2 linked regions of the Homo sapiens genome follow. The protein of the gene in region 2 binds, or shares a complex with, the protein of the main gene of each other region. Links are inferred from orthologs where the notes say so. Each region holds a gene or a part of one and is shown on either strand. Other genes may lie near its edges.

What was found.
Region 1: the proteins of CRY2 (region 2) and PER2 are in contact, whole or in part, in a crystal structure (PDB 4U8H), measured with the Mus musculus proteins. The link is inferred for Homo sapiens from one-to-one orthologs. Residues at the interface, in NP_034093.1 of Mus musculus: Trp58, Ser63, Ser64, Val65, Lys163, Leu166, Thr167, Lys169, Arg170, Glu215, Leu216, Gly217, Phe218, Asn330, Pro331, Ile332, Cys333, Ile334, Gln335, Ile336, Pro337, Asp339, Asn341, Pro342, Glu343, Leu345, Ala346, Lys347, Ala349, Glu350; in NP_035196.2 of Mus musculus: Tyr1132, Leu1134, Gln1135, Asp1136, Pro1137, Trp1139, Leu1140, Met1142, Ala1143, Asn1144, Thr1145, Ile1149, Met1150, Met1151, Thr1152, Tyr1153, Gln1154, Leu1155, Arg1158, Asp1159, Leu1160, Val1163, Leu1164, Asp1167, Gln1168, Lys1170, Leu1171, Leu1174, Gln1175, Ser1177.

The regions. Positions count from the first base shown.
Region 1 is NC_000002.12:238,286,772-238,290,677, forward strand, and holds the start of PER2 (period circadian protein homolog 2), read right to left. Parts: upstream 1,840-3,906; 5' UTR 1,578-1,839; intron 1,127-1,577; exon of another isoform or gene 1,098-1,126; intron 1-1,097. UniProt on the Homo sapiens protein: Transcriptional repressor which forms a core component of the circadian clock.
Region 2 is NC_000011.10:45,878,410-45,882,315, forward strand, and holds part of CRY2 (cryptochrome-2), read left to right. Parts: intron 1-2,504; 3' UTR 2,505-3,906. UniProt on the Homo sapiens protein: Transcriptional repressor which forms a core component of the circadian clock.

The sequences.
Region 1 (3,906 bases), on a different chromosome or scaffold from region 2:
GGTGAAGTTACATCATCGCTTAAAAACAGCAGTGTGACTACCAGTATTTTTGAGAAAGTTCAGTGGGTACGAGAAGTAGTGCACAGGAGAGGAATCTTTCCTTTTTCCTTGTAAGCACTGCAGACGTGGCTCACAGGAGAACATTACTTGGCCCAAAGGCAAGAGCATATCAGAAGCCTCTGTCTCCTGCGAGAAACCTGGGAAAAATCATCTGTAGGGTAACAGAAAACCAAAAACCTGGGAATTAAAGTAGACCTCTGAGACTGCCCAATCTGAGCCCCTCCAAACAAACAAGGAAACTGAGGCCCAGACTGGGAGCCAGCAGCAGCCAGCTGGCTGACACAGGGCTCCCCCTTCCCACCTGGCACTCCAGTCTCCACAGAAAGCCAGGGCTGCGTTAGTTCTGTACCAATGAATCATACCAAGGCGACAGTGACAGATAACTGCAAACACCCACGGTGCCATCCCCGCGCTGGCACACCACACAGCTTCCACTCAAAAAAAACGGAGTCCCTTTCTTCATTATAGTCATATAGCACACAAAAATCAATTCACCTTGTATTTTAAAACTCAATTTCCAAATAAAGCCTTCAGGTAGAGTCCTGTTTTCTTCTCAGGCACACCCAGCCTGGGACCAGAAGCCCCAGGTGGGGGTAGAGGGTGGGCCAAGAAGTCTAGCAGTCCTGCTGTGCCATATACAGGTGAGAGGCGTCCATGTGGGGCTTTAGCCACCGTGTGGGGTTCTTAACACATTTCCCGGACTTAAGGCCCTTCCTCCCAAATTCCAGCCCACCCAGGATTCAGCACGCAAGTGGAGGCCATCACTGAACCTCTGAAGCTCATCCTGCCCCAGGACGATGGGAAGATCCTGCAGACAGCCTGGGCCTGGGCCTCAGTTTGCTCATCTGTCAGGCTGAGGGGTTACTCTGGGTGATTTTCAGGGTGCCTTCTGGCTCTGTTGTTCTGTATGAATCAGCTTTCCAAACGGGTTCCTTCTGTGTAGGTTACAGAAACCCTGGCAACCAACTCGTCATCCCTTACCCTGGCCTTCCTGAAGGGGGAAGCAGGCCACCTCCCACCCCCTGGTCTATGTCTGGGACTTGGCAGCCAAAGTACATCCCAGAAGGTAGGCGCGACTGCTGCACCAAAGAGTGGACACCCCCATTCCCTTCTATCCAGTCCGGGGAAAGGGAATTAATACAGGGTGGTCCAGGGGAGGCAAAGGGGCGAACATTAGAGGGTCTCCCCGCCCTCAGGTTCCCAGGCCTGGCTTGGCACCGGGACTTCCTTGTCCCTCTGATCACCCATTCCAGGAGACCCGTGGGTGTCCAGGAAAAGCTCCTAGATCAGCGCCCCTCCATGGCCCTTCCCCAGCCCAGGACTTAGCCCTGTGGCCTCAGAAGAGGCAGTCAGCTCCCCGAGGGTCCTCCAGATCCCAGGGCCGGCTGCGCTGACCCTTGGTTTCCTTGGCCTTCCCCATGCGAGGGGAGGGAGGGTTCCCAAAAGAGAATCGCCCACGGAACCGCAGCCCGCGCGCAGTCACTCGGTAGCTCGGTGCCCTACACACGCTGCCTCACCTTTCGGACCTCAGGCTCCTGAGCTGCGAAGCGGGGGTTCGAGTCCCCAACCCTCGGTGTCACCGCAGTTCAAACGAGCGCACCCTGCGCGCGGCTCGACCACTCTCCACCTGGGACAGGGCCAAGGGCACACGCCCCCACGCCGGCGCCGTTTCAAGCCGAGGAGTCCAGCAGCCCAAGGAACTTCCGGCGGCGCCTCCGCTGCCCGAGCCGGCGCTGGGACCCCGACCTGCCCGAGGCCCGCGCGCCGGCGGCGGTTACGTAAGCCGCAGCGGGGCCGCGCCGCGCCACTTACCGCCGGCCGCGCCCGCGTCAGCCCGTCCGCCGGTCCCTCCGCCGACTCGCGGCTCTGTCCGCCCGGCCCCGCGCCCGCCGCCGCCGCCCACAGCTGCACGTATCCCCTCAGCGCCGCCGCCTCCGCCGCGGCCGAGTCGCCGCTGTCACATAGTGGAAAACGTGACCGCGCGCGCCGCGCCCGCCCCCGGCCTCCGCCATTGGCCGCGACTCCGTCTCATCTGCATACATGAGGGGCGGGGCCTACGAACGCCGCGCGCCCATTGGTGGCCGCGCCCGTCGCTCTTTTTACATAAGACGCACATGGAACTCCATGTTCACCTCGTCGGTTCCTCAATGGAGACGCGGCGCGTTCGTGCTACCCGTCGTCCTCCCTAGTGGTCTCATCCACTTCCGGCGTCGGCGCCTTCCATTCACTACGCCCTCAAGCCCGCCAGCTCGGGGAGCGCGGAGTGGCGCGTACCATTGCGGGCGGGGGAGCTGGGCGCGGGGCTCCTGCGCACCTCCGGCCGGCCTGGCAGACCCGGCGCGCCGAAGCCGGACGAGGGAGACCTCCACCTCCGGCCACCGGCCAGAGGCGCGCCCCCAGCGGCCAGGGCCGCGGGAAAGTCCGCGCGGCATGCTTCATTCACGCATTCACATTCATTCATTTACTCATTCACTCACTCATTCATCGCGGGGCCCCGGAGCAGCCCAGGAGAAGGTGGCAGCACCGCCCTGCAGCAGCTCCGGGGGCACGCCCACCCGGGCCTCTGAGGTGCCTGTGGTCGACACTTGTCCCGGCAGCTACCAAGTGACCTTTCTTATTTTTGAGACCACGTGTTGCAATTTTTGGTTCAGGAAATAGAGTCATTGTTACTCTGGGGAGGTACAAAAGAAAGAAATGATGTTGTCCCTGCCCCCAAGCGCATCACTAGGGAGAAAGGACTATCTCATAAAAAGGAAACTTAATCAAATGCTAAATTGGGCGATGTGGGCTATAAATTAACCAGAGCTATCCCCACAGGCTCCGTGAGAAAGGCAGCACTTCCAAGGCGGGTAAGATGGGCCCTGAGAAAGGGACGCCTTACAACGGTGCAAGCCGTAGAGACGCAGGAGCCAGGGGTAGGAGGTTGTCCTGGGAGACAGCGCGGGACCCTGCATCACCTTGTTTCGGTAAGCATTGTGTGGGGCATGTGGAGCCTCTAAACTTCCATTTAAAGTGTCAGGAGAAAGAGTACAATTTCCCCGGGTCTGGGTAGAAGCCTGAGACTTACAGGACAGGAAGGAGCTTTCAGGCTCCCACGCAGCAGGCTCTGAATGTGTAGGCTCTCATGGGGAAGGCGAGACTGTCCAAGAAGCTGGAGCCCGCAGCATCTCTCTTTACTCTTCTTGTTCTTCTTTACCTGGACTCACCTGGGGACCAGGGATGGGACAGAAGGAAAAGTTATGAACCCACATCAGGAATTCCTGAGTGTGATAACTCCTTCTCTTCTACTTGACAAGGTGTGTGTGCAACTTCTCAGATGCAAACCAGGGCAAATACCAAGTTCATCGGGGCAGCCCTTCCCACAGAAGCCCCGGGAGGCCTGCATGCTGTTCACACACTCAGTCAGGTGGCCCCTCCTCCTGTTCCTCTGACATTGACACCTCGACACACTCCCCGCCCCCTCTCCCTAACACATACACACACAAATGCCAAGCAAACCCAGGCCCGGCTGCTGCGCCCTGCACACACCCAAAGGCTCTTTTGTTTCTTCCCTCCCATTGACGTCAATGGGGAGCTCCATTGTTCTGGAAACAAGAGTAAACAGACAGCTCATCCACACCTTACCGAGATTCTTCTTCATGCTTTTGCTGGGTCTTGCTCCATATTCAGCCTGCTACCTGATGTCACATTTCCTCCCTAAATGTAGCCTTTTTTATTTCCACCAATAAATCTGGTAGAAATATATTGAAATCAATTCTTTTAGAAATTATCAAGTGCTTTGGGCTCTAGGACTCTTCAGAATCTCATCTATTTTCAGTGATTCACAGCCAGTTTCTTCTTTCCTAT
Region 2 (3,906 bases):
AATCCTGAAAGTTTTCTATTTCAGAAGAATAGCCATCTCTTTAGTTTAACAACAGGGGCCAGAGAGAGCCCTGTGTGTGGAGTATATACTCAGAATCAGCACATTTCAATAAATACATGTACACCTTAATAATACATACATTTGTAGCAAAAAAATGGCTAGGTTATTATAGTACAAGCTTAAAGGGAAAAATTATTGAAAATAACACACATTTTAAAGAATAAAACACACAGCCAGGTGCGGTGGCTTACGCCTGTAATCCCAGCACTTTGGGAGGCTGAGGGGGGCGGATCACCTGAGATCAGGAGTTCAAGACCAGCCTGGGCAACATGGTGAAACCCCATCTCTACTAAAAGTACAAAAATTAGTTGTGGTGGCAGGTGTCTGTAATCCCAGCCACTTGGGAGGCCAAGGCAGGAGAATTGCTTGAACCCAGGAGGCAGAAGTTGCAGTGAGCCAAGATCGCGCCACTGCACTCTAGCCTGGGCAACAGAACAAGACTCCATCTATTAAAAAAAAAAAAAAAAAAAAAAAAAAAAGTCGGGCTCGGTGGCTCACTCCTGTAATCCCAGCACTTTGGGAGGCTGAAGTGGGTGGATCACCTGAGGTCAGGAGTTAGAGACCAGCCTGACCAACATGGAGAAACCCCATCTCTACTAAAAATACAAAATTAGCCAGGTGTGGTGGCACATGCCTGTAATCCCAGCTACTCAGGAGGCTGAGGCAGGAGAATCGCTTGAACCTGGGAGGCAGAAGTTGCAGTGAGCCAAGATCACTCCATTGCACTCCAGCCTGGGCACTAAGAGTGAAACTCTGTCTCAAAAAAAAAAAAAGAATAAGACACACAGTACTGACCTATACAGGCACCCACTCTTATGTCTGCTCTTTATTTTGCCCAGCTTCCAGATAAATTATCATCAGATAAAATCTGCTTCAGATTTACCATGCGGCCTTAAAAGCATCGCATGATACTGAATCCTTGTCTCCAATGTCTTTGACTTTAAGAGCATTTTCCCTTTTCTAATAACAGCTTAATTCACATGTATGTCTGTTGGATATTAGTCTTCATGCTGCCATGTTGAATTTCTTCTAAAAGTCTTCTTCTCTAAAAGTCTTAATGAGCAATACTATCGTATAGAGATTACTTGCTAGTAAAAAGACAGATTTGAGAATCAGACAGATGTGGATTTCCTTTTTTGGCTCTGCCACTTATGAATGCTGTTGTCCTGGGCAAGTTCCTTCTCCTCTCTGGTTTCTGTTTTCTCATCTACAAAAATGGAGGGCAAGCTTCAAGGTTACTGGGATCTCAAGTTGTGTTAGTCTGCTCAGGCTGCCATGACAAAGTACCACAGACTGGGTGGCTTAATCAAGAGAAATGTGTCCTCTCACTGTTCTGGAGGCTGGAAGTCTAAGATCAAAATGTTGCCAGGGTTGGCTTCTTTTCTTCTGAGGCTCCTCTCTGTGGCTTATAAACAGCCATCTTCTCCCTATGTCTTCACATGGTCTTCCCTCTGTACTGTCTGGGTCTAAATTTCCTCTTCCTTTAAGGACACCAGTCATATTGGATTAGGGCCCACACTAATGACCTCATTTAACTTAATTACCTCTTTAAAGACCCTGTCTCCAAATACAGTCACCTTCTGGGGTACTGGGGGTTAGGACTTCAACATAAGAATTTTGTGGGGGACAGAATTCAGCCACAGCACAAGTGTATAGTACCTGACCCACGGCAGGCTTAGTAAGCCTACTTATTGTCTACCTCACCCACATTTAAACTGCACAAACTTTTAATGGGACGCTGTGTGTCTCTGTAGACTCCCAGACACACTAAACCTATTTAAACAGACAACTCAGCATTGTGACAGGCGCACTCTGTCCTTCCTTTATTATCAGGGATGAAGCTGTTTCTTCTCTTTGCCCCAGATTCCGGATGTCATAAATCTTTAAAATGAGTCATCCTTGTGTCTCCTCTCTCCCTCCTGCCCCCACAATCTTCCAGCACTGTGCCAGGGTGCTTTCATCTATATGTGGAAATGTGCTCACCTGCTGATTGTAAACTCAGTCATTGCCTTACTCTTCAAAATTACTGGTCCCAGCGGGCTTCTCTTCCAGCCATTTTTTCCTGATTCTCCATCTCTGGCAGCAGCTGCTGTGCCTTGATTCAGAAGCTGCCCTTGTCATATCTGAGCAAGTATCCCCCAGGGCTTCACGTGACTCTCACATAGCCTTGTCCTCCTCCTCCTCTGCTGTCCGCAGCCCTGGGTGGAGGGCCTGCAGTGGGGAGCTTGTCCTGCATCAGCACCTCAGAGGGGCAGTATTCCCTCATCCCAGTGGCATCCCAGCAACAACCTGTCCCCAGGTACCGTGGCCCTTTCAGCTCACTCTTTCAGCTCTTCTCAGGTCCCGCTCTGAATGTCCCCAGAGAAGCAGCCAGAGGAGCTTGTGTCCCTGGGCAACTGAGCAGCCTCCTGAATGCTCCTTTTGCACTTGTTTTTCTCTTCCAGCTGCAGAGCCCTTGCTCCGTGAGCAAAGCCTGGGTGCCCAAGCAGCCACCGCAGCAGCAGAGTACAACCTGCAGAGAAGCTGATCACCGGGCAGAGATAGAGCGAGCATGTGTGTGTGTGTGCGCGTGTGCAGAGGAGGGAGTGGTGTGCCTGTTTGTGTGTGCATGCATCTGTTGACACTCATGATTCTGAATGTTGCCTGGGCTGGGGGAGTACCTGTAGCACGCCAGTGCTGTTTCCCGGCCTCCAGACACAAGGCTCGAGGTTATGGCAGTGACTTTCAGCTGAGACCTGTTCCTGCAAGCCAGCTGCCTTGTCTGAACAGAACGTAGTGGTAGGACCCTAGCTGGGATTCTGGCATCTGCCTCCCTAGACCTCCTTCCCTCCCTCCTCACGTCAGGCTGTGGAGCAGGAGCACAGCAGTTCTGGCTGTTGTCCAAAGCATGGGATTCTGGAGGCAGCCAGAGCCCTGCTGAGTTCCTGCTTTCTGACCTGGAGGCTGAGCAGGCCGGAGTGGATGGATGCTGTCCAGACGTAGCCACCTGGCCTCTGTTTCTTATTTTAAAATTCTCTGCTACTGGGCTCAGTCCCAGGCCCTTCCTTGGGCTTCTGGGACTGAGCATGAGGCCATAGACAGATCTAAAAAGTTTCCACCACCCTACAGAAGTACACACAGATACCTGACTGGTGTGGGGTATGCCTGGTACTGTAATAGGAGCCTAAGACAGCACACCTACCTTTTCAGGATTTAGAACCTAAAATTAGAAAGAGAATCCCAGCTGTCATTGTTCCTTCCCCAGAAGCTAAGAGCCAGCCTCAGAGCCTACCCAGGAGCTGTGAAGGGGCAAGGGTCAAACTGACTCACTCTACCAGGAGGAGACCAGGTTGCAGTGGCGTAAGGCCCCCTGGTTTCTCTGGCCACACTCCAAGGCACCACAGTGCTGCCAGTGAGGACAGCTGACACCCAGCCAGGGAAACCATTCTAGTCTTTATTCTGTTGGCTTCCAGGGCCTGTCCTGGACTTGTCAGCATCCAGACTGCCATGTCAGCTATCCCAGTAGCTGAGCTCCAAGGACTCAGGCAGAGGGACTCAGGGATGGGGACTGCCAGGGGCAGTTGGCAAAAGTCCAAGTAGAGATTACACCCAGAACACCATTCCTTCCAGGAGCAGTAGGTGGGAGGTTTGACCCAGAGAAGCCAATCCTTGCATTCCAGGAGTGGCCTGTGCCTCCCACCTCTTCCTTCCCACTGCCAAAGGCCTGTGTTGAGAAAGATGTCATGCAAAAGGACGACGGTGGCCAACTAAAGCAAGTCTTCCTTCCACCCTGTGGCCTGCACTTGAGCCACAAAGTGTGTGTGTGTGTGTGCGTGTGTGGTACGTGTGTGTGTGTGTGGCTATGAG